Linked DNA regions of Homo sapiens: region 2 is linked to region 1. The links come from fine-mapping of genetic effects on gene expression. A gene starts in region 1. The other region holds a variant in brackets. All regions are shown on one strand. Distances are from middle to middle. Region 1 holds the start of BMPR2 (bone morphogenetic protein receptor type 2). Region 2 overlaps BMPR2 (bone morphogenetic protein receptor type 2).

What was found. PIP is the estimated chance that this variant, and not a neighbour inherited with it, causes the effect. A credible set is the group of variants that fine-mapping cannot tell apart.
Region 2: its variant is the best candidate, but not a certain one, in a credible set for the expression of BMPR2 in whole blood (TOPMed, PIP 0.54).

What each region holds. Positions count from the first base shown.
Region 1 is chr2:202,371,120-202,381,917 of GRCh38, forward strand. It overlaps BMPR2 (bone morphogenetic protein receptor type 2), which reads left to right and starts at 5,208. Exons shown (of 13, transcript NM_001204.7): 1 at 5,208-6,431. The coding sequence starts at 6,356. RefSeq lists enhancers at 4,056-4,215, 4,326-4,615, 5,770-6,553, 6,556-6,625 and silencers at 4,706-4,755, 4,906-5,395, 5,526-5,585, 5,656-5,715.
Region 2 is chr2:202,487,201-202,497,998 of GRCh38, forward strand. All of the region lies in intron 3 of BMPR2 (bone morphogenetic protein receptor type 2), which reads left to right. Among named protein-coding and RNA genes, the nearest start is that of BMPR2, 120 kb to the left of the region's middle. The variant T/C (reference allele first, on the strand shown) is at 6,291.

The sequences.
Region 1 (10,798 bases):
CTGCCTCCCGTGTTTCACGCCATTCTCCTGCCTCAGCCTCCCGAGTAGCTGGGACTACCGGCGCCTGCCGCCACGCCCGGCTAATTTTTTGTATTTTTGGTAGAGACGGGGTTTCACCGTGTTAGCCAGGATGGTCTCGATCTCCTGACCTCGTGATCCGCCTGCCTCGGCCTCCCAAAGTTCTGGGATTACAGGCGTAAACCACCGCTCCAGGCCGGTCACATCTCTTTCAATATGTGCAGCCCACATCCAGTGACTGGTTGGTGTGAAGGTATAATTTTACTGGGTTTTGCCGGGCGCAGTAGCTCACGCTTGTAATCCCAGCACTTTGGGAGGCCGAGGCGGGTGGATCGCCTGAGTTCAGGAGTTCGAGGCTAGCCTGGCCAACATGGTGAAACCCCATCTCTACTAAAAATACAAAAATTAGCCGGGCATGGTGGCACAAGCCTGTAATCCCAGCTACTTGGGAGGCTAAGGCAGGAGAATTGCTTGAACGCGGGAGGCGGAGGTTGCAGTGAGCCAAGATCGTGCCAATGCACTCCAGCCTGGGCTACAAGAGCGAAACTCCGTCTTTAAAAAAAAAAAAAAATTTACTGGTTTTACCCAACTTGGCTAGGCAGTCTGTCTAATGCTGGATTTCCTACTCCAAGGCAGCATTCAAGGAGCCTAAATTATCAGTATACTTGAGGGACTTTTTCCCTAGATGTACTCCACTGAAGGAATCTTGAATGAAAAGCTTGCTGGGTTTGGGGGGTCTTTTAGGTGTACCTTAAAGTGTTAGCAGACACAGATTAGGACAATGCTGAAAGGCCAGCCCAGCTCCAGAATTCCTGCAGGATTGATTGATGCCTCAGTTGCAAATGTGTTGCAATTCAACTTCTCCCTCTGCCCAGTCTTGCATCCCTCAATCCCCACAGAGGTTGCTCTTGCCATCATTAGGTAATAACCTCCTGCATACAAATTTCAGAGTTTCAGTGTCTATTTCCTGTGAACTCAAGTTGCGATGGGTCCCCTGATGACTTATATCAAACATGTAACATGTGTGAGAAATAAACCTTTATTGCAATAAGATGCTGAGATTTGGTGAATGTTACTGTAATTTAGCCCATCCTAATTAGTACAGATGCCAAACCTCACCTGCATCACCAGTCCTTTGTTCTCAGCTGAGCTTGACTTACATTGTCTGCCTTTTGTCGTGGACAGGTTTCTTGCCAAGTCTTAATTCTGTTCTTTGATGTTCTTTCTCACTGTGAGTGAACAGCCATGTCCCAACTGAAATATCACAAGAAGGAACAGAAAAGGGAAGAGGGTACATATCTAGTTGTCTACCTACCAAGTCAGCGGCATGTGTTTTTTCTTGTGAATTTCCTAAGACCTTTTCTTTATGTTCTATATAATTTATCATACATTTATAACATGTACGGTAGTCCTCCCTGCCCCTTATCCACAAGGAACTTGTTCCAAGACCTCCAGTGGATGCCTGAAACTGCAGACAGTACTGAACCCAATTGCTATAAACTGGAATACATTTCTATTATGTCTTCTACCCACAAATTTAATGCCTTTTCCATCTTAACTAAGCACTTATTACACATTGTGGCCATCACTTTTGCAGTTTGAGGTATGGCAGCAAAACTAGCATGAATTTATTTTTTCTTCACAATTCAGTTTCACAGATAGATTTTTTTTTTTTTTTTTGCCAGAGTCTCTATCGCCCGGGCTAGAGTGCAATGGGCAACCTCCACCTCCTGCGTTCAAGTGATTCTCTTGCTTCAGCCTCCGGAGTAGCTGCTGGGATTACAGGCACGTGCCACCACTCCCAGCTAATTTTTGTATTTTTGGTATAGACGGGGTTTCACCATGTTGGCCAGGCAGGTCTTGAACTCTTGACCTCAAGTGATCCTCCTGCCTTGGTCCCCCAAAGTGCTGGGATTACAGACGTGAGCCACTGCACCCTGCCAAAGATTCATTGTTACCAGCAATCTTAGCAACCTCAGCCTATAATTTTTTTCCCTCCTTATTAAGTCAAGAACTCTGACTTTTTTTTTTTTTTTTTTTTTTTTTTTTTTTTTTTTTTTGAGACAGAGTCTTGCTCTGTCGCCCAGGCTGGAGTCCAGTGGCATGATCTCGGCTCACTGCAAGCCCCACCTCCCGGGTTCATGCCATTCATTCACTGCCTCAGCCTCCCGAGTGGCTGGGACTACAGGCGCCTGCCACCACGCCTGGCTAATTTTTTTGTATTTTCAGTAGAGACAGGGTTTCACCGTGTTAGCCAGGATGGTCTCGATCATCCTGACCTTGTGATCTGCCTGCCTCGGCCTCCCAAAGTGCTGAGATTACAGGCAAGAACTCTGACGTTTTAACTTACAGGAAGCACTTTACAGCTTCTGTATGGCTGAATTGCCAGCATCACTACTCTTGTGCTTTGGGGCCATTATTAAGTAAAACGAGGGTTAGTTGAACACAAGCACTTGGATATTGCATACTGCCACAGTCAGTCTGATAAGAGACTGCTACTAAGTGATTAAGGAGGTTATAGCGGATACACTGTACAAACCATGATTCACATCCCAGAAGGACAGTGTGGGATGGCAGCGATTTCCTCACAGCTAGTTAGTAACAGTACTCAATTTAAAATTTATGAGGCCAGGCGCAGTGGCTCACGCCTCTAATCCTATCATTTTGGGAGGCCAGAAGGGCGGATCACCTGAGGTCAGGAGTTCGAGACCAGGCTGACCAACATGGTGAAACTCCATCTCTACTAAAAATACAAAACTAGCCGGGTGTGGTGGCGCATGCCTGTAATCCCAGCTACTCAGGGGGCTGAGGCAGGAGAATCGCTTGAGTCTGGGAGGCGGAGGTTGCTGTGAGCTGAGATCGTGCCATTGTGCTCCAGCTTGGGCAACAAAAGAGAAACTACGTCTCAAAAAAAACAAAAACAACAACAACAAAAAAAAACACCACTTATTATTTCTGGAACTTTCCATGTAATATTTTCAGACCGTGGTTGACTGCAGGTAACTGAAACGGTGGATAAGGGGGAACTACAAAAAGGACACTTAATGTTTCTTGGAAAAAATCTTAAGCAAATAAAAATTGAATGATGAAGTACTTGATCTCAATTTGAGGAAGATAAAAGTGTACTACGAATTAATAAACTTTAAACTTTCTGCACCTCTAACATACTAAAATCCAATTTCTCTGAGTGCTAGAAACTCTCAGTTCTTGAAAGACAAATGGTAAAACAATACCGTTTCTAATTTAGACCTTTTGGGCAAAACAAAATACAGTAATAAAGCTATAAAGAATCGGTCGGGGGCGGTGGCTCACGTCTGTAATCCCAGCACTTTGGGAGGTCGAGACGGGCGGATCACGTGAGGTCAGGAGTTCGAGACCAGCCTGGCAAACATGGTGAAACCCTGTCTCCACTAAAAATACAAAAATTAGCCGGGCGTGATGGCGCCGCCTGTAATCTCAGCTACTCGGGAGGTTCAGGCCGGAGAATTGCTTGAACCTGGGAGGTGGAGGTTGCAGTGAGTCGAGATCGCGCCACTGCACCGCAGCCTGGTCGACAGAGCAAGACTCCGCCTCAATAAATAAATAAATAAATAAATAAAACCTAAATAAATAAAGCTAATGAATCAAAGCATATGCTCTTCGTCTTTTTAAGGGATTTTACTAGGTAGAATTTTTTTTTCTCTGTCTAAAGGGTAAACAGCATAAACATATTTCAACTAAAAAGAGTCTTAGAATCCGGGGTTGGTATTGCTACAACCCCTAATTATGGAAGATGTTTAGTATAACAGAACCAGTTTAAGGAATGTGGAGATTTATTTACATCAAATTCAGATAAAGAGGTAACAGCGGACTAGAAGAAGCAAGCAGAGCATGACTTAAGGAGTCTATCTATGACTGTATCTGTGGAACTGCCCTTAGCCACAATGAAAGACCAGCAAAACCAGCCTTCAGCATAACCCTCCTGCCTGGTAGGAGATGGGAAGGCCAGACTTCACCCCTCAAGATCGCCCTCCCACGCGCATTTTCCACCTCGCAGCTAAGAATTCAGTCCAGACTTCCGATCATGGCGCCACGCACGTCACCTTCTCCCCTCGCCGCCAGCAAAATCCCACCCACGTCGGCTGACCCCGCAGCGGGGTGTAAGGGCGGGAGGGATCCCGTCTCCTATACTGGTCGCTTGTACAAACCAGATCCAAAAAACGCACTACACAAATCCTTGGAAACTGCGGTACCAACGGGATCTTCTCAATTCCTTGAGTGCAAAATGATCCCACTCTCTATCCCGACACAACTCTAACTCCATTTTCCTTTCACGTGCCCTAAAAAGCCCTCAAGGCCCCCAGCCTTGGTGAATCCAGGCCCTCTCTCGGGGTGGGCACCGCGCTGTACGGACAGACGCGCGCACGCAGCGGGACGATTTATAGAATTAAAAGTCTTTTTTTTTTTTCTGGCTTCGCATCCTTGCAAATACTCAATATTCCTGTCAACTAAGAAGGCTAAGGGAATGGGCGGTTGAGGAAAGCAGGACGTCGATTACAGCGAACACATCAAAGGGGTGGTCTTTCCAATTCCGGCTTTTGTTTGAGTCAGAGGGGAGCCTGAGGAGGCCAAGGTCTCCGGTTCTGGGAAAGGCGGGTCCATCCGGATTCTTTGGGCTGCGGAGAGGGAGGTTCCAGCCCCGTGAAACAACAGAGGGCAGTTCTGCCCCTCGAGGCTTTCCTCCGAGAGTACTGAGACGGAGACGCCTCAGTCGGGAGAAATCCCGGAACTCGGAGGAGTCTGCTGAACGCCGAACAAAAGGATGTGGCCGTCGTCTCTTAAACAAATACGCGAATCCCAAGCCATGCACATTTGGAAGGCATGTGTATGTGTGTGAAGGAGAAAGGCCACCGCTGCCCACCGCAGCCCCACCCAGCCCTCGGCCATTCACCGGAGAGACGCGCTGCGGTGGGGCCTCGGAGCCCTCAGCCAGCCCCGAACGAGGGGCGGGGCCGGGCGGGGCCGTGAGCGCGCAGGCGCAGTGCGGGCTTCATCCCGCCGCCGGCGCCGCCGCCGCCGCCGCCCGCTCTGCACCACAGGCTAGAGACAGACAGGGCCGGGAAGAGCCGGAGACTGAGGAGGAGGCGGAGGCGGCGGCGGAGGCGGGGCGACTCCGGTGACCGGGAGCGCCGCAGACTGGCAGCTGCGGCGACTCCCCCCTTTGTGTCTGGTCTGCTCGGAGCCACTGGAAGTGCCTCCCGGAGGGACGCAGGGTGTCTCGCCGCCTCCCTGCCCACCCCCTTCCCCGGCTACCTTCATCCGCCCTCCCGCCGCCCCCCGCCCTCGGTCCGCGACGCCCGAGTTCCGTCAGGAGCCCAGAGCTGCGGGAGAACGAGGCGGCGGCGGCGGCGGCGGCGGCGGCGGCGGCGGCAGCAGCAGCGGCTTCCTCGGGGGGTTGTGATTCGCTCACAGGAGCCATTGACGGGAGAAGAGGAGGCTTTCTTGGTGGAATTTACCTCAGGCAAGATCGAGCCGCAGGAATAAAAAGCGAGGAAGGGAAGGGAGCGCCGCCGGGAGGACTAGAAGGGGCAGCCTCTCACACCCACTCCGCCTGCCGTCTCGGGGAGCCCGGACCGGGGCCGCGACCGCGACCCCTCCCCTCCCCCGCTCCTACCTCTCCTCAGCCTTCGCCAGGGCCTCCCCAACCCTCTCACGGTTGTTCTGCGAAGGCGTGGGGACTGTGAGCTTGTCCATGGAGGCAGGCACCTTTTTTGATCCAGTCAAGGAAGAGGATTTGTTGTTTTCGAAATCAGAGTGAAGGAAGCACCGAAGCGAAACTTAAGGAATCCTGCCTTCCCGGAGCCGCGGGCGATGCGACTAGGGCTGCCGGGCGCCGCCGCCGCCCGTCCGGCTTCGTCCTTCCCGGCAGTCGGGAACTAGTTCTGACCCTCGCCCCCCGACCCCGGATCGAATCCCCGCCCTCCGCACCCTGGATATGTTTTCTCCCAGACCTGGATATTTTTTTGATATCGTGAAACTACGAGGGAAATAATTTGGGGGATTTCTTCTTGGCTCCCTGCTTTCCCCACAGACATGCCTTCCGTTTGGAGGGCCGCGGCACCCCGTCCGAGGCGAAGGAACCCCCCCAGCCGCGAGGGAGAGAAATGAAGGGAATTTCTGCAGCGGCATGAAAGCTCTGCAGCTAGGTCCTCTCATCAGCCATTTGTCCTTTCAAACTGTATTGTGATACGGGCAGGATCAGTCCACGGGAGAGAAGACGAGCCTCCCGGCTGTTTCTCCGCCGGTCTACTTCCCATATTTCTTTTCTTTGCCCTCCTGATTCTTGGCTGGCCCAGGGATGACTTCCTCGCTGCAGCGGCCCTGGCGGGTGCCCTGGCTACCATGGACCATCCTGCTGGTCAGCACTGCGGCTGGTGAGTAGCTCCGGCCGGCACGTCCCGGCCACTGCCCCTGCGGGTGGCGAGGGAGGGAGCCCGCAGAGGCCGAGGCCTGTGCTTGCCCTTCGCCATGCGTCCCCCCGATCGCGGTGCAGCGGAGCTGCGACCCGGTGCCTGCGCGCCTGCCCCATGCCTTCCAGGGAAATCGCCTTTAATATTCTTGTGTATTTTCCTATCCCCACTTCCATATTCCCACCCCACCCCCCTTTACGGGGTGAAAAAGACATATTGGGTGTGGTATCTTGACATTTTTAGCTGTGAGGTAATGCAACGATTAAAAATAATATTTTAATCACCAGTGAACAGTGCTTATTATGAGATCTCTGGAAACAGACCTGTAGATTTTTAAAATTATTATTATAAAGAAGCGGTTTTGGCTTATAGTAAAAAGAACATCAACTAGAGAACACACACTTGAACCTTATTTTGAAATTTAGATCACTCTGGGAATCCATGTTCCTTTCATTATTCAGAAATGTTACCGAATGAATAGAATAAATGTTGAGGAAGCCAGAACTGTGAGATTCTTGATATATTGTATTATACGGTTTGATAACTTTACTGTTAGTCATCTGGCATCTATCTATTGGCTTTGCTGTCGAGACAACTTTGACCTGACATTAGACTTCTAGGAGATTTGACTCCGAAAGTTCTTTGACATTTCACTAAAGTCTAAAGGGTGGTAGTCATCCTTTCCTTTGGATATTTTCATTTCAGTTCTCAGAAACCTTAGGAAAAAGACCTTATCTTCTATTTGCAACTATTTTTTCAAGCAGCCTTTTGGTGATTTGCTTTTAGAAATTTTCAGGAGTGAATTCTACATATAACTCGTACACTTGGTTTATGATGGGCAAATGGATTGTGCTTTTAAAACGAGTAAAGGACCAAATGACCCTTTCGAATTACTTTTTTTCTTTTGATAAGTGTGTTTCACATTAAACAAATTTCTCATTGCTATGTTAGATACAGAGGTTACTTGCTTATTTTCATTTTGAAAGTCTGATCTAGGAAAATGCCGAAGAAAATTTGAAGTTTCCTTTTATGCTTTTGCTATTGTTGAATAATGTCTACTGTTGATTAATGTCTGTTAAATTGATGATAAATCTATATGGTTCTGTTAAAATAATTTGAACTTCTGAGTTTACTTTAAAACTGATATTTTAATATTTTTAATAATTGTAGTTGCTTTCAGAGTAAAAATGATTTTTCTCTAAATTTCTTTATATTGTGTTAGCTATTTAAATTCTCTAGCCATAAGCCATGTGGTTCCTGTAAAATATGGAGTAAAAGGCCTTAAACGTTCCATGAGCAGAAATCTCAGAACATAGGCTTTTCAATGTTATTTGTTATTCTTAACCTTTTTAGAATATAGATTCTCATTTATGATGACGTGCTCATAATATTGTGATCAGAACTGATAAAAGTAAGAGAAAAAGCATTTATTTAAAAATAAACTTAATTTTTGTTTGGTAATACAATCATCTTAGAATAGTGTCTCTTAAAAGGGAGAGAGTAAAAGAATCACTGCTTAAAAGTGGTTGTAGTCTTTTTTTTCTTTGGTATTGCATAGCACCAGATGACAAAATTTGTGAAGCTGGATTTCAGACCTGTAACAGTAATGATAATAGCTAGTATTTATTAAGTGCCTGCCATGCACCATCAGCTATTCAAATAACTTTACATATATTTTTTCATTTCGTCTTCATGACAATTCTATGTTGTAGGTTATTATCATTCCCCTTTTCCATAGAGGGAGAGTAAAGTACAGAGAATTTGAATAACTCACCACACAGTCAGTAAATTATGGAGCCAGGATTATAGTGTGCGCCCTCACATACCACATTAATGGTAACAGCAGCACTAGCAGCAACAACTTCTCATCTTATTGGATATATGAGATGGAGTAATTAGCCTTCACCAGATCAACCTTTGTAAAGAAGCAGGGACACTTACAAGGTGTTAGTGCAGCAGTGGTTATGCAAATGTCGTAGTTCTGAACATGTAAAACTTTGCTTGGCCTAATATTGAAGTGGCTAGTGCAGCTTCATTAAGTGCAAGCTGATTAGAGAGGGCCTGTGTGGATTTGGGTTACACAGATGCAGTGATGTTAACTCGACAGGCGCAAATGGTGCAGCTGAACAGGAAAATAAATCCTAGAAGACTGATTGATAGCACATCCTTTTTCGGGGTCATGGATAAATCATTTCTTTTGATTCCCTCTTTCTCACTTATTGAGTTCTTGGACTCCTTAATTCTTAGAACATTTTCTTTCTTTCTTTCTTTCTTTCTTTCTTTTTTGTTCAGACAGAGTATCACTCTGTCGCCCAGGCTGGAGTGCAGTGGCACGACCCTGGCTCACCACAACTTCCGCCTCCCAGGCGCAAGTGGTTCTCCTGCCTCAGCCTCCAGACTAGCTGAGATTACGGGAGCCCACCACCATGCCCAGCTAATTTATTTTTATTTTTTGTATTTTTAGTGGAGACGGGGTTTCACCATTTTGGCAGGGTGGTTTCGAACTCCTGACCTCGTGATCCACCTGCCTCGGCCTCCCAAAGTGCTGGGATTACAGGCATGAGCCACCACACCCCGCCTAATTCTTAGAACATTTTCTATGCCCCCCCCAAAAAAAAAAACAACTTATGAAAAATAAGATGTGCTGGCTTGGTTTATGAATGAATTCTTAATAAAAGAATACAACACAGCTATTATTTAAAGGTCAACTTCTGTAATGCGTTTTAAATAATTCACTTGATTAGATTGCAATTTTACATACATCTCTTGAGGAACACACACATTATATAAAGTAAGATTAATCTAATGTTAGTGAATATTACTGAGTAACTGAAGTTTAGTAATCTTCATTTTAGTTTTTCTCAAAGTGTGGGTACTGCAACAGAATTACCTGGGGTTCTTGATAAAAATGCATATTTTTGGCCCTATAGTCCAGATGTACTGAATGAATCTCTCTGGGAGAACCCCCGCAAAGTCTCACTCAAGCAGGTGCTTGAGAAGCACTGCTTTATATCATCAGTCCTGATTGTTTGGATTTCTTTCTTTTTTTTTTTTTTTTTGAGTTTTGCTCTTGTTGCCCAGGCTGGAGTGCAATGGTGTGATCTCGGCTCACTGCAACCTCCACCTCCCGGGTTCAAGCAATTCTGCCTCAGCCTCTCGGGTAGCTGGGATTACAGGCATGTGCCACCACTCCTGGCTAATTTTGTATTGTTAGTAGAGACAGGGTTTCTCCATGTTGGTCAGGCTGGTCTTGAACTCCTGATCTCAGGTGATCTGCCCGCCTCGGCCTCCCAAAATGCTGGGATTATAGGTGTGGGCCACTGTGCCTGGCCCTGGCCCTGGCCCTGGCCCTGGCCCTGGCCCTGGATTTCTTTCTTTCTTTTTTTTTTTTTTTTTTTTTTTTTTTGAGACAGAGTCTGGCTCGGTCACCCAGACTGGAGTGCAGTGGCGCCATCTCAGCTCACTGCAACCTCTGCCTCCCGGGTTCAAGTGATTCTTCTGCCTCAGCCTCCCAAGTAGCTGGGACTACAGGTGTGCACCACCACACCCGGCTAATTTTTGTATTTTTAGTAGAGACGTGGTTTTACCATATTGGCCAGGCTGATCTCAAACTCCTGACCTCGTGATCTGCCTGCCTCTGCCTCCGAAAGTGCTGGGATTATAGGCATGAGCCACCACGCCTGGGCTGGATTTCTTAAATATGGTGATTCAGTGACATTTTGCTGTGTAATTATTGGCAACCACAAAATCTTAGTGGCATGCAACAATAGGCATTTATTCTGCTCCATGTGTCTCTTTCTGGGGTCCAGGCTAGAGGGAGAAGTAACATCTATCTGGGGGAGGCTTGTGTCATGGCATTGGCAGAAGTGCAAGAGGCCAAGCCCAACCCTACCAGCACATTTCCAGACTCTGCTCTCCTAACATCCCATTGGCTGACCGAGTCATATGGCTAGGCTAAGCTCAGAAACAAGAGGTATCAAAGTACACTTTGCCTGTGATGAGGCTAATGTAATATTTGGATATATAGTACTATTGCAGAAGAACGAAGAATTGAAATTCTCAGTAGACCACATATAACCAGTAAGATGGTCCAGAAGGGAGGCTTTTCTTACCCTTTGAAGAGGGCCAACCTCTTAATTAGTTTTTTGCATTAAAATGATATAAACTTTGGTCTCTACAAAAGCTATTCTGGCATGTGGGATGATGTGATAGTAGTGGTATTGATGTGGATGAGTAGTGAGGTGAGAGATAACTGTTCACACAAGACAAAACCTTTCCTTCATTAAAGGCCAGTTTTTTTTTTAACAAAAAGAGAAGAAATTGAATATTGA
Region 2 (10,798 bases), 120 kb after region 1:
ATAAGTTTGATTTTCAAGAGGTTTTTTTTTCTAACACTGAAAGTAACTTAGTCTGTTTTATAATAGTCATCTAGGAACTTAATGGCTAAAGAAGACCCCAGGTTGGGCACTTCTAATGAATTTGTAGACTGAAAATTGAGAATTCTGTATAATGAATCAGATTCATACATCAGAGTTAATACTAACAAGAATTTGAACATAATAATTTTCCTGGAATAGTAAGTAGTTTGTCTTTATATCACTAATAAATAATGATCAGATTTCCATGAAACTTGAATTACAGTTAAAAAATCAATAAGATAAAAACGTAGAGGATAATATTTGAGGCTGCTTCTCTATCACAAATCAATGCAAACGCCAGAACACTGCTATAAAGTCAAGTGTTCTATTCTGAAGGGTTTACTTTGCCTGTATTGCACCACAATCAAGTTATACTTTTTGTATTTTTCTGAACTGGTCTGGGTTCAGTTTCCTCGAAGAAAATACCACCTAGCTAGTTTATGTAAGAAAGGACAGCAAATTATTAAAATGATTGCAGAATTGTTGAGAGCACTTGAATAATGATCCTCAAACTTTAGCATTAATCAGTATCAGTTTGGAGGCCCTTGAAAACAGATTGTTGGCCCCACCCTCAAGATTTTTTTACTATAGGGGTGCACCACCAACACCCGGCCAATTTTTGTAATTTTAGGAGAGATTGGGTTTCGCTATTTTGGCCAGGCTGGTCTTGAACTTTTGACCTCAGGTGATTAGCATGCCTCACCCTTCCAAAGTGCTGGGATTGCAGGCGTGAGCCTCCGCATGCCACTGCGCCCAGCCTATTTCCAGTATAATCTTGTCATTAGTGCTCCCCATCATGTATTTATTCATGTATCCATTCATTCATTCAACAGGTATTGAATACACACTATGCATGCAAGCCACTTTCAAATATTGGCAATAAAGAGGTGAATACGATTTTGTTTCTCATTCTCTTTATTATCCCTATCCGTGAACTCCTGTTGAGGGTATAAAGGTGAATATGTCAGGAAGGAATATGGGTAGATTGGAATATTGTAATTATGCCAATAATTACAATATTATGACATAAGTGCTGACAGTATTATAAAGCATTTTATAAATACTGAAAATTGTGTGAGTTCAGGTGTTTATATGTATATTCTTAATATTTTAAAAATAAAACATCTTTTGAAAAAGGTGAGAACCACCCTTAGACTGTTTTTTAAAATGTGAAATTTACTGTCTTAACCTTTTTAAACAAAAAAACAAAAAAACAGAGTCAGGTTCTCACTCTGTCTCCCAGGCTGGAGTGCGGTGGCATGATCATAGCTCACAGCAGCCTCAAACTCCTGGGCTCAAGTGATCCTCCCACTTCAGCCTCCCTAGTAGCTAGAATCTTTTTTTTAATGTTTTGTAGAGACAGGGTCTTGCTGTGTTCCTCAGGATGGTCTCAAGCTCCTGGCTTCAAGCAATCCTCCTGCCTCGGCCTCCCAAAGTGCTAGAATTACAGGTGTGAGCCAGCATGCACAGAGTTTAACCATTTTTAAAAATATAAAATTTACTCTCATAGTAATTTTTAAGTGCACAGTTTAGTAGCATTAAGCACATTCACATTATTGTGTAACCAACCTCCAGAACTCTTTTTGTCTTGCAAAACTGAAACTCTATACCCATTAAACAACTCACCAATCTCCCCTGCTCCCAACCCTTGGCAATTACCATTCCACTTTGTGTCTGATGAATTTTACTACTTGAGATACCTCATATAAGTGGAATCATAAGGTATCTGTCTTTTTGTTACTTTTTTTTTTTTTTTTTGAGGTGGAGTTTTGCTCTTGTCGCCCAGGCTGGAATGCAACGGCACAATCTCAGCTCACTGCAACCTCTGCCTCCTGGGTTCAAGTGATTCTCCTGCCTCAGCCTCCCGAGTAGCTGGTATTACAGGTGGCTGCCATTACACCCAGCTAATTTTTTGTATTTTAAGTAGAGATGGGGTTTCACCATATTGACCAGGCTGGTCTCAAACTCCTGACATCAGGCGATCCACCCTCCTTGGCTTCCCAAAGTGCTGGGATTACAGGCGTGAGCCACCACGCCCGGCCTTTGTTGTTCTTTTGTACCATTTTGTGTACTGTTTTTCAGATTTTAAAGTAAATGGAGATATGAAAAAAGAAAAACAAAGTTAAGGGAACGAAAAGCAAGGAATAAGACAATTATAAAAGTAAAGACAGTGGTGATTAATTTAAGTCACAATAGATGGAATTCCTATATAACCTAGAGAGAAAGTTAGAATATAATTGGACTAAGAAGAAGGTGCTGAAGATAGAAGTAGATTTAAAGTTGTAGTTTAAGGTTTATACATCTCACAAGTGGTAAATAAATGTTGATCTTTAGGAATATTACATATCTTACCCCACAAAACAACTGAAGTGCTGTGTTTTAAATAAACAAACATGATTAATTTTAACAGTGTTAAAAATTCATTTTATAGTTAGTAGTGGGATTCTGGGCATTACTTACAGACTCCTTTGTTTGGATAAAATTTTGTCTACAATTGTGAGAAAAACATGGACAGAATTTTTAGAAAATTGAAAGTTTTATATGTTGACACACACCTACGTAAGATGTTACATGGGCAGTAGTAGGCATACTAATATATCAGTCAGCTGTTGCTGATAATACTTCATCAGCAAGCCACCCCTAAGCTCAGTGGCTTTAACAACAAGCATTTATTCTCATAATCATAGGTTTGTAGAACAGCTGGATTTTGGCTGATCTAGGCAGGACTCAGCTTCAGGCTTCAGGATCAATTCATATCTTTTTGTCTGGGACCCACGATCAAGGGGCAACATTTACTCAAGCTTCTATCAATAGTGGATTGCCTGCTCATAAGAAGTGCAAACGCAGCTACCCAAGCATATTTTAGATTTCTGCTCGCCTTATATTTGTCAGCTTCTCATTGGTCTGATCAAGTTATGTGGCCAGATTCAAAGTCAAGGGGCAAGGAGGTACACTCCATCTATCACGAGGCCGTGGCAGAAGGTGGATATATTTTCATTATAGGGAAGTGACAATTTTAGGAAGTAAAGAGAGTTACCTTCTAAAGTCAAAAGGTATGTACACACACACACACACACGAGGTTGTACTAAATATATAGCTACTCAAAGATATGTATATATACACAAATGCACACACACAAGTATGTATTGGAACCTATACATTTAGTACCACTTATTTTTTGTGTATGGTATACATTCATTTCCTTGAAAATGAAAATAAGTTCTTTGCATGTAAGAATGGACATCCAAAATGTACCCACAATGATATAAATAAAAAATACTTTTCTCACTCTGCTAGCTTTTACTTTTGTCTGTTTTTGTTTTATTTTGTTTTAAAACCAAGATAGAGTTGGATTAAAAATAGAACTTCCTGCATATGCCAGAATTTCTCCAGTGCTTCTAAGCAGGACATGTGAATGCCTCTGAGACAGGTTTGCAGACAGAAATATGTACAGGGAGAAAGAAGAGAACATAAAAGAATAGGAAGGGTAAAGAGTAGGATTAGGGAAAAGAAGTGTCTGTTTTAGAGATCAAGTACCAGCAACAATTAATCTAAACTCCCCTTAGGGTCATCAGTGCCCTTGATATTGTTACTTCCTTACTCTCACTATATAAGGAGTATGGTTTGTAGGATCTGAGCAATGTTTTTTTGTTTTTGTTTTTTGTTTTGTTTTTTGTTTTTTGTTTTTGGAGACAGAGTCTTCTTCTTGCCCAGGCTGGAGTGCAGTGGCACAATTTTGACTCACTGCAACCTCAGCTTCCCAGGTTCAATTGATTCTCCTACCCGAGTAGCTGGGATTACAGGCATGCACCACTATGCCCGGCTAATTTTTGTATTTTTGGTAGAGATGGGGTCTCGCCATGTTGCCCAGGCTGGTCTGGAACTCCTGGGCTCAAGCAGTCCTCCCACCTCAGCCTGCTGAGTAGCTGGGACTACACAGATGCGCCACTACACCCGGCTAATCTTTTAATTGTTTGTAGAGATGGGGTCTTGGCAGGTTGTCTAGGCTGGTCTTGAACTGCTGGGCTTAAGTGATCCTCCCGCCTTGGGCTCCCAAAGTACTGAGATTGCGGTCATGAGCCACTGCTCCGAGCCCACCCTACCTCTTTATTCCCAAGCTTTTCTGTCTATTCTGTTCCTTCCCTAAGTACGTCTCTTTTTTTATTTTTTATTTTTTTTTGAGATGGAGTTTCACTCTGTCCCCCAGGCTGAAGTACAGTGGCACGATCTCGGCTCACTGCAACCTCCGCCTCCCGGGTTCAAGCAATTCTCTTGTCTCAGCCTCCAGAGTAGCTGGGATTACAGGCACCCACCACTACACCCAGCTAATTTTTGTATTTTTAGCGGAGACCAGGTTTCATGATATTGGTCAGGTCAGGAGATCCACCCGCCTCAGCCTCTCAAAGTGCTGGAATTACAGGCATGAGGCACCACGCCTGGCCAGGTGCATCTTTTACTAACTCTGGCCTGCCTTATTGCTGACTACTGCCTCTAGTGCCAAAAGAGAAACAACTAGAGGATGTACAGCCTATTTGTCTGCTTCATTTAAAATTCTTCTCTTAGCAACAAAATTAAAGTCCTAAATATAACTAAAAAATCAAATGTATACATTTGTGGAATGTAAAAGGAATTACACACAATGTTCTTTTTATTGTCATTATAGTCCCCAGGCTCCTTACAAGGAAAAGTAGCTACATTTGTTACATAGAAAAACAGCCCTGAATTATTTTCAGCTACATACAAACACCATGGTTAAATCTTCAAAACATATTACTGAACTGAAGAAGCAAGGCACAAAAATTCCATTTATATAAAATTCAGAAATAGGCAAAAAAACTCAGCATTCAGTGATAGTAATACTATTAAGAAAAGCAAGGAAATGATTACCACAGAAGTCAGAATAGTGACTATTTCTGGGGCAGAGGAAGGATGTTAGGAACAGGTAGGAGCAGGTAGGAGACTTTTGGGACCCTTGGTGTTGTATTTTGTGGCCTTGGTGCTAGTTACATAAGTGTTTGCTTCATCATGATTCACCAAGCTCTGCATTTTGTATTATAAACATTTTCGTGTATAATGCTTATACATTATACACGAAAATGTATATAATTTTGTGGGTTATATTTTGTAAGGTTTAAAAAATGGAAGTCAGGATGGGCGGTTACAAGTGGTGACTCACGCTTGTAATCCCAGCACTTTGGTAGGCCTACGCAGGCAGATCACTTGAGACCAGGAGTTCGAGACCAGCCTGGCCAACATAGCAAAACCCCTTCTCTACTAAAAGTACAAAAATTAGCCAGGTGTGGTGGCAGGCACCTCTAATCCCAGCTACTTGGGAGGCTGAGGCAGGAGAATCACTTGAACCCAGGAGGCAGAGGTTGCAGTAAACAGAGATCCCGCCATTGCACTCTAGCCTGGGCGACAATAGCGAAGCTCTGTCTCAAAAAAAAAAAAAAAAAAAAAAACCAAAAAAAAAAACAAAAAGGAAATCAGTGTGCGAAGTGGGAAAGCTAGAGCAAGGGAAACAACTAGGAAACAGACCAGGAGAAATTTAATGGGGAAAAAAAGTTATTTGTTTTTCTCCAAATATCTATCTTGTTTTCCTTATAAGAGAGCAAAGGTTACTATGATAATTAAAATAACATAAAATGAATTGAGGGAGTTGCCTGCTGATGTGATTCATATTTTGTTGTTCAATCAGTAAATAACTGGAAGATACAGCTTTCACTTTGATAGTCAAATTAGTTCATGGTCATTTTCTGAAAACAGTTCTTGAGTATGGATTCTGAATTTAGAACTGTCATTTTGTAGAGCAGTTAGGAAAATTGACGAGGGATCTTTGAGTGACATAGTCTTTGGTTTAGTTCTATATTGTGAGTCTCGTGAATTTTCTGTATTGTGAATTTTATTTTTAATTTGTTTTGTTTTAAATAATGACTATTATAGTGACTAGGTTTCCATTTTTCTAGTGGTAACTTTAGGCTTAAATGGACATTTCTTACTCAATTAGGTTATTGGTGTTTTCTAAGAATCATTAAATACTTTTTTTTTAAAGTTGTATAGAGTAACAGACTCTGTTCTATCATATCTAAAAAGTACAATCTTAGTACAATAGAGGTAATTAAAGTAGAATTATACCAAAAATACTTTGAGAGCATATTTAATGGTGTTTTCTTTATTCTTCGATGAAATGTTTTGATGTACAATGGTCTGCAAATTAATTCTTCTATTT[T/C]TCTTGTATTTTTAAAATTCCTAGTCTGTTTACTTAAATGTGATCTTTCCATTTTTTATTTAATGATTTTATTCCAATCAAATATAATTAACTGTTTTAATTCATTCTTTAATAAAATAAACAAATTGCTGAAATTGTCTCTCCTAATCATAAAATAGCTATTTAAAATACACTCTAAAGAAATTAAAATTGTAAATACTTATGGAGCTAAAAGTTAAGGAGGAGGGGCACTGAATGTTTTTCCCATTTTTTCATGTCTTTTCTAACCTTTTGGCGGGGGTGGAATTTAACTTTAGACTGTTATTTCTCTCTCTTCTTCAGTTTTTCACTGTTTCTTTCATAATTCACTCATCGAATGCCTTGATTCAATTAGCCAAGTATGGGCTATTTTTTTTGTTGTTATTTTTTGCTTTTTCTTCCAAGCTAGATCTATTCAAAATGATTAACAAGTTAAATTTAAACCAGTCTTTCATATTCAGTATTAACTACTTGTTTGAAAAAACAAGAAATCTGCCCCCTCTCAATTTTTTAGGGCATTAAATGTAAACATTAGTCTGATTATGATTACTGCCATTCCAAACATATTAATTAAAAGCAACGTTTATTTCCTATAAAAACATTTGTTCAAAACATTGAGCTCCACAATAAATCATAGTACAGAAACAATATCATAACAATTTGGATTATTTTGCTAATGAATTCACTTAACTGATCACATCGTTTTGGATTTAAATGTTTTTCTCTACTTGTATGAAAGCTACATTGCTTGAAAACTACAAAAACTAATCCCCAATTTGCCTTTCTACACAGTGGTAAAAGATTAAGGAGCTGACATAACCACTAGTGTGTTATATTTAAGCTTCCCTTTGCTGCTTGCTGCACATGTTACAATGTTGTTCTTTCTTTGACACAGACCCAGACAAAAGCTGAGTGTAGCAAGGAAACAGACAGAACGCCTCCAGTAGTGGCCCCCGCCTGGCTCCAGGATTTGTAAACAGAAACATCCCAGGCTCCAATGAGACAGACAGAGGTTCCCTGTCTGTTCTGCATTCAGGAAGTGTTTGCTTGTATAAGCCCAACTATTGCACAGGCATACATAGTAGTGTTTACATTTGGCTGAGTATTTAACTGAGAAAACTTAATAGGGAAGAAAAAGAGGGTTTATTAGAGGTAGGAGAACAAGACAATTCAGGTATAACATAGATGTAGCATATGTTATGTAAAAAGGTTTTTTTATTTTGAAGAAATAGACAACAAAAAATAGGAGTTTTCTAGTTAAAGGCCTCTTTTGCACGTACACGTGAATACACATATTGAAATATTTTTCCTGGCAGTTTTTCAGGGATCTCATATTTTTAGACCATGTGACAGAGGCTTGGAAAGTTTTTATTTGAAATTTAACCAATCATATGGTTTATAATGAAATGGGAAAAGTTCCCTTGTCCTGACAGGGTGCGTGATGCGGGGTGTGGCTCACTTCTTAAGTGCCCCGCTGCTCAGACCTCTAGGGGACCATACAGACAGGTAGGCTGTGGGGCTCCGACCTCACAACAGTGTCTAGGAGTGAATGTTTACAGCTCCTGAATCCGCAGTGGGCGTGTGTTACAGGGTGCTCTTTTAGTTTGCCATCTATAGGCGGCTTGTGTTAGCTCAATTAGACCCCCTTCCTTATCACAAGGACAGAGGGATTTCTGTATCCCAGGGTTTCCTGCCTTGGTGTACGGGAAGAGTCGGCTCACACCTGGGCTTGGAGAATGAGTGCAAGGTTTATTAGTAGAAGTAGCTCTCAGCAGATGGGGGAACCAGAAGGGAGATGGTTTTCTCCTGGAGTTGGGCCGCTTGGTGGCCAGGGCTCTCCTCCGTCTGCCCCAGCCAAACTCCGCGTCGTTGTCGTTCTGTCGACGGCCTGCCGGCGTGCGGGTGCCTATCGTTGTGCTCTTCTGCTGGCGTGCTCCTCTCGACGACCAGCCACTTTCTTCCGCCGATGTGCTCCTCTTTACGTCTGGCCGCCTGTGTGTCTGCCTGCTAGGGTCTCGGGTTTTTATAGGCCCAGGATGGGGACATGGCGGGTCCGGGTGGTCTTGGAAATGCAACATTTGGACGGGAAAGCAGGAGTGCCTGTCCTCACCTAGGTCTGTTGGGGTGGAGCCCTAGTCAGGGACGCACCTTTCTCTACCCATTACTTACCTCCCCACTTCCGTGTCATTTAAGGAGGGCACACTGTTCCCTTCCCAGCACTATAACATGTTTAAAATGTTTTAAAACTTTTTTCATTCTCTCCAATATATGAATTAATAATCCATTTCAGATTTTGAATTAATGAATGTTTAATGTAAAAGTTTTGTTAAATTTTCTTTTATAAATTTGAGAATAAAAGCAAAGAATGCTGAGCCTTCAAAAAACTGTATGAGAAGACTCATTATACAGAGTTTTGGAAGTAGGAGGACCTTAAAAGTCACTTACAAGATCACTTATTTTTATTTTATAGTTTAATGTATTTTAGTAACAAACAGGAACAGCAAAAAGACAGCGTTAAAAACGTGCTTGAATGTAGGACAACTCAAAAAAGTAGAGTGAACAGATGGAACCTACTCTATGATTAAAATGCTGCAAACATCATTTAGTTGCTGTCAATAAGAAATTTACTTATTTTCCAAAAATCCAAATGCAGGCATTATCCAGAAAAATTTAACAGGTTTATTTATAATTGTTATGGCCAGGCATGGTGGTTTATGCTTGTAATTCCAGCACTTTGGGAGGCCAGGACAGGCAGATTGCTTGAGCCCGGGAGTTTGAGACCATCCTGAGCAACATGGCAAAACCCTGTCTCTACAAAAAATAAAAATTAGCCAGACATGGTGGCATGAGACCAGATGCTTGGGAGGCTGAGGTGATAGGATCGCTTGAGCCTGGGAGGCTGAGGCTGTAGTGAGCCATGGTCATACCATTGCACTCCAGCCTGAGCGACAAAGTGAGACCCTGTCTCAAAAACAAAAACAAAAAAAAATCAAAAGAACAAATTAAATAATTGTTATGAAGTTGAACTTCTAAAACTTGTTCACTGAAATGTTTTGACCCGCATTAATGCTTTATGTCCCACATTTATATTGAAAATCCACATGCAAATAAAAATGGAAAAACCACCAATACCTCATTTCTGTTCCTTATTTTTTCACTTACAATCTTATACTTAGGTGCCTTTTGACCCTATGGGGAAAAAATAATGTTCAGAACTACTGAGAGGTGACAGCGTGCTGGCAGTCCTTACCGCCCTCGCTCGCTCTCAGCGCCTCCTCTGCCTGGGCTCCCACTTTGGCAGCACTTGAGGAGCCCTTCAGCCCACCACTGCACTGTGGGAGCCACTTTCTGGGCTGGCCGAGGCCGGAGCCCACTCCTTCAGCTTGCAGGGAGGTGTGGAGGGAGAGGCGCGAGCAGGAACCAGGGCTGCGTGCCACGCTTGCGGGCCAGCTGGAGTTCCGGGTGGGCATGGGCTTGGCGGGCCCCGCACTCGGAGCAGCCGGCCAGCCCTGCCGGCCCCAGGCAATGAGGGGCTTAGCACCCGGGCCAGCGGCTGCGGGGGGTGCACTGGGTCCCCCAGCAGTGCCAGCCAACCGGCACTGCTCTTGATTTCTCACCGGGTCTTAGCTGCCTTCCCGCGGGGCAGGGCTCGGGCCTGCAGCCCGCCATGCCTGAGCCTCCCACCCCCTCCATGGGCCCCTGTGCGGCCCGAGCCTCCCCGATGAGTGCCGCCCCCTGCTCCACGGCGCCCAGTCCCATTGCCAAGCGGTGAGACAATCGCTGAGCGGTGAGAGCATCACCTATCCGCAAGCAGTGAGTACCATCGGACCCCTTTCGCTTGCTATTCTGTCCTGTCTTTCCTTAGAATTCGGGGGCTAAATACCGGGCACCTTATTGGCCAGTTAAAAGTGACTAGCGCAGCTGCCAGAGTAAAGACACGGGTGTCAGGCTTTCTGGGAAAGGGCTCTCTAACAACCCCCGACTCTTCGGAGTTGGGACCATTGGTTTGCCTAGAACCAGCTTCCGCTTTTCCTGTACTTCTGGACTGAGTCAAGGGTCGACAAAGAGGAAAGCCATGCAGCTCCGGGGTCCCAACAACAAGTTGGTTGACCCTGCGGCCATGGGCAGAACTCTCAAAGGCATGTCACCCAAGTGAGACTTGCCCATCTATCGTATCTATCCTGACCCTTGCCCCCTGGGTCCTAATGCCTGCCAGACAAACTTCCTCTCACCTCTTTTCTCTGAGGCTAATTAGACCCACTTCTAAAAATTGCTACCTGTCTCTGGTGCTTTTCTAGTTTCTCCTATAAGAATGATTTCTAGTATAAACTCCAGGACTCTGTTACCTTCTTTAGGCACCTGGGCTCACCAATCAGAAAGACATAATTTTTGCCCAAAGCCCTGTCACAGTGGGGACTACCTGGAATTTTAGGATCCCTCCTCAGACTAACAGGCCTAACAAAAGCTATTCCTGAAGCTAGGATATGGGG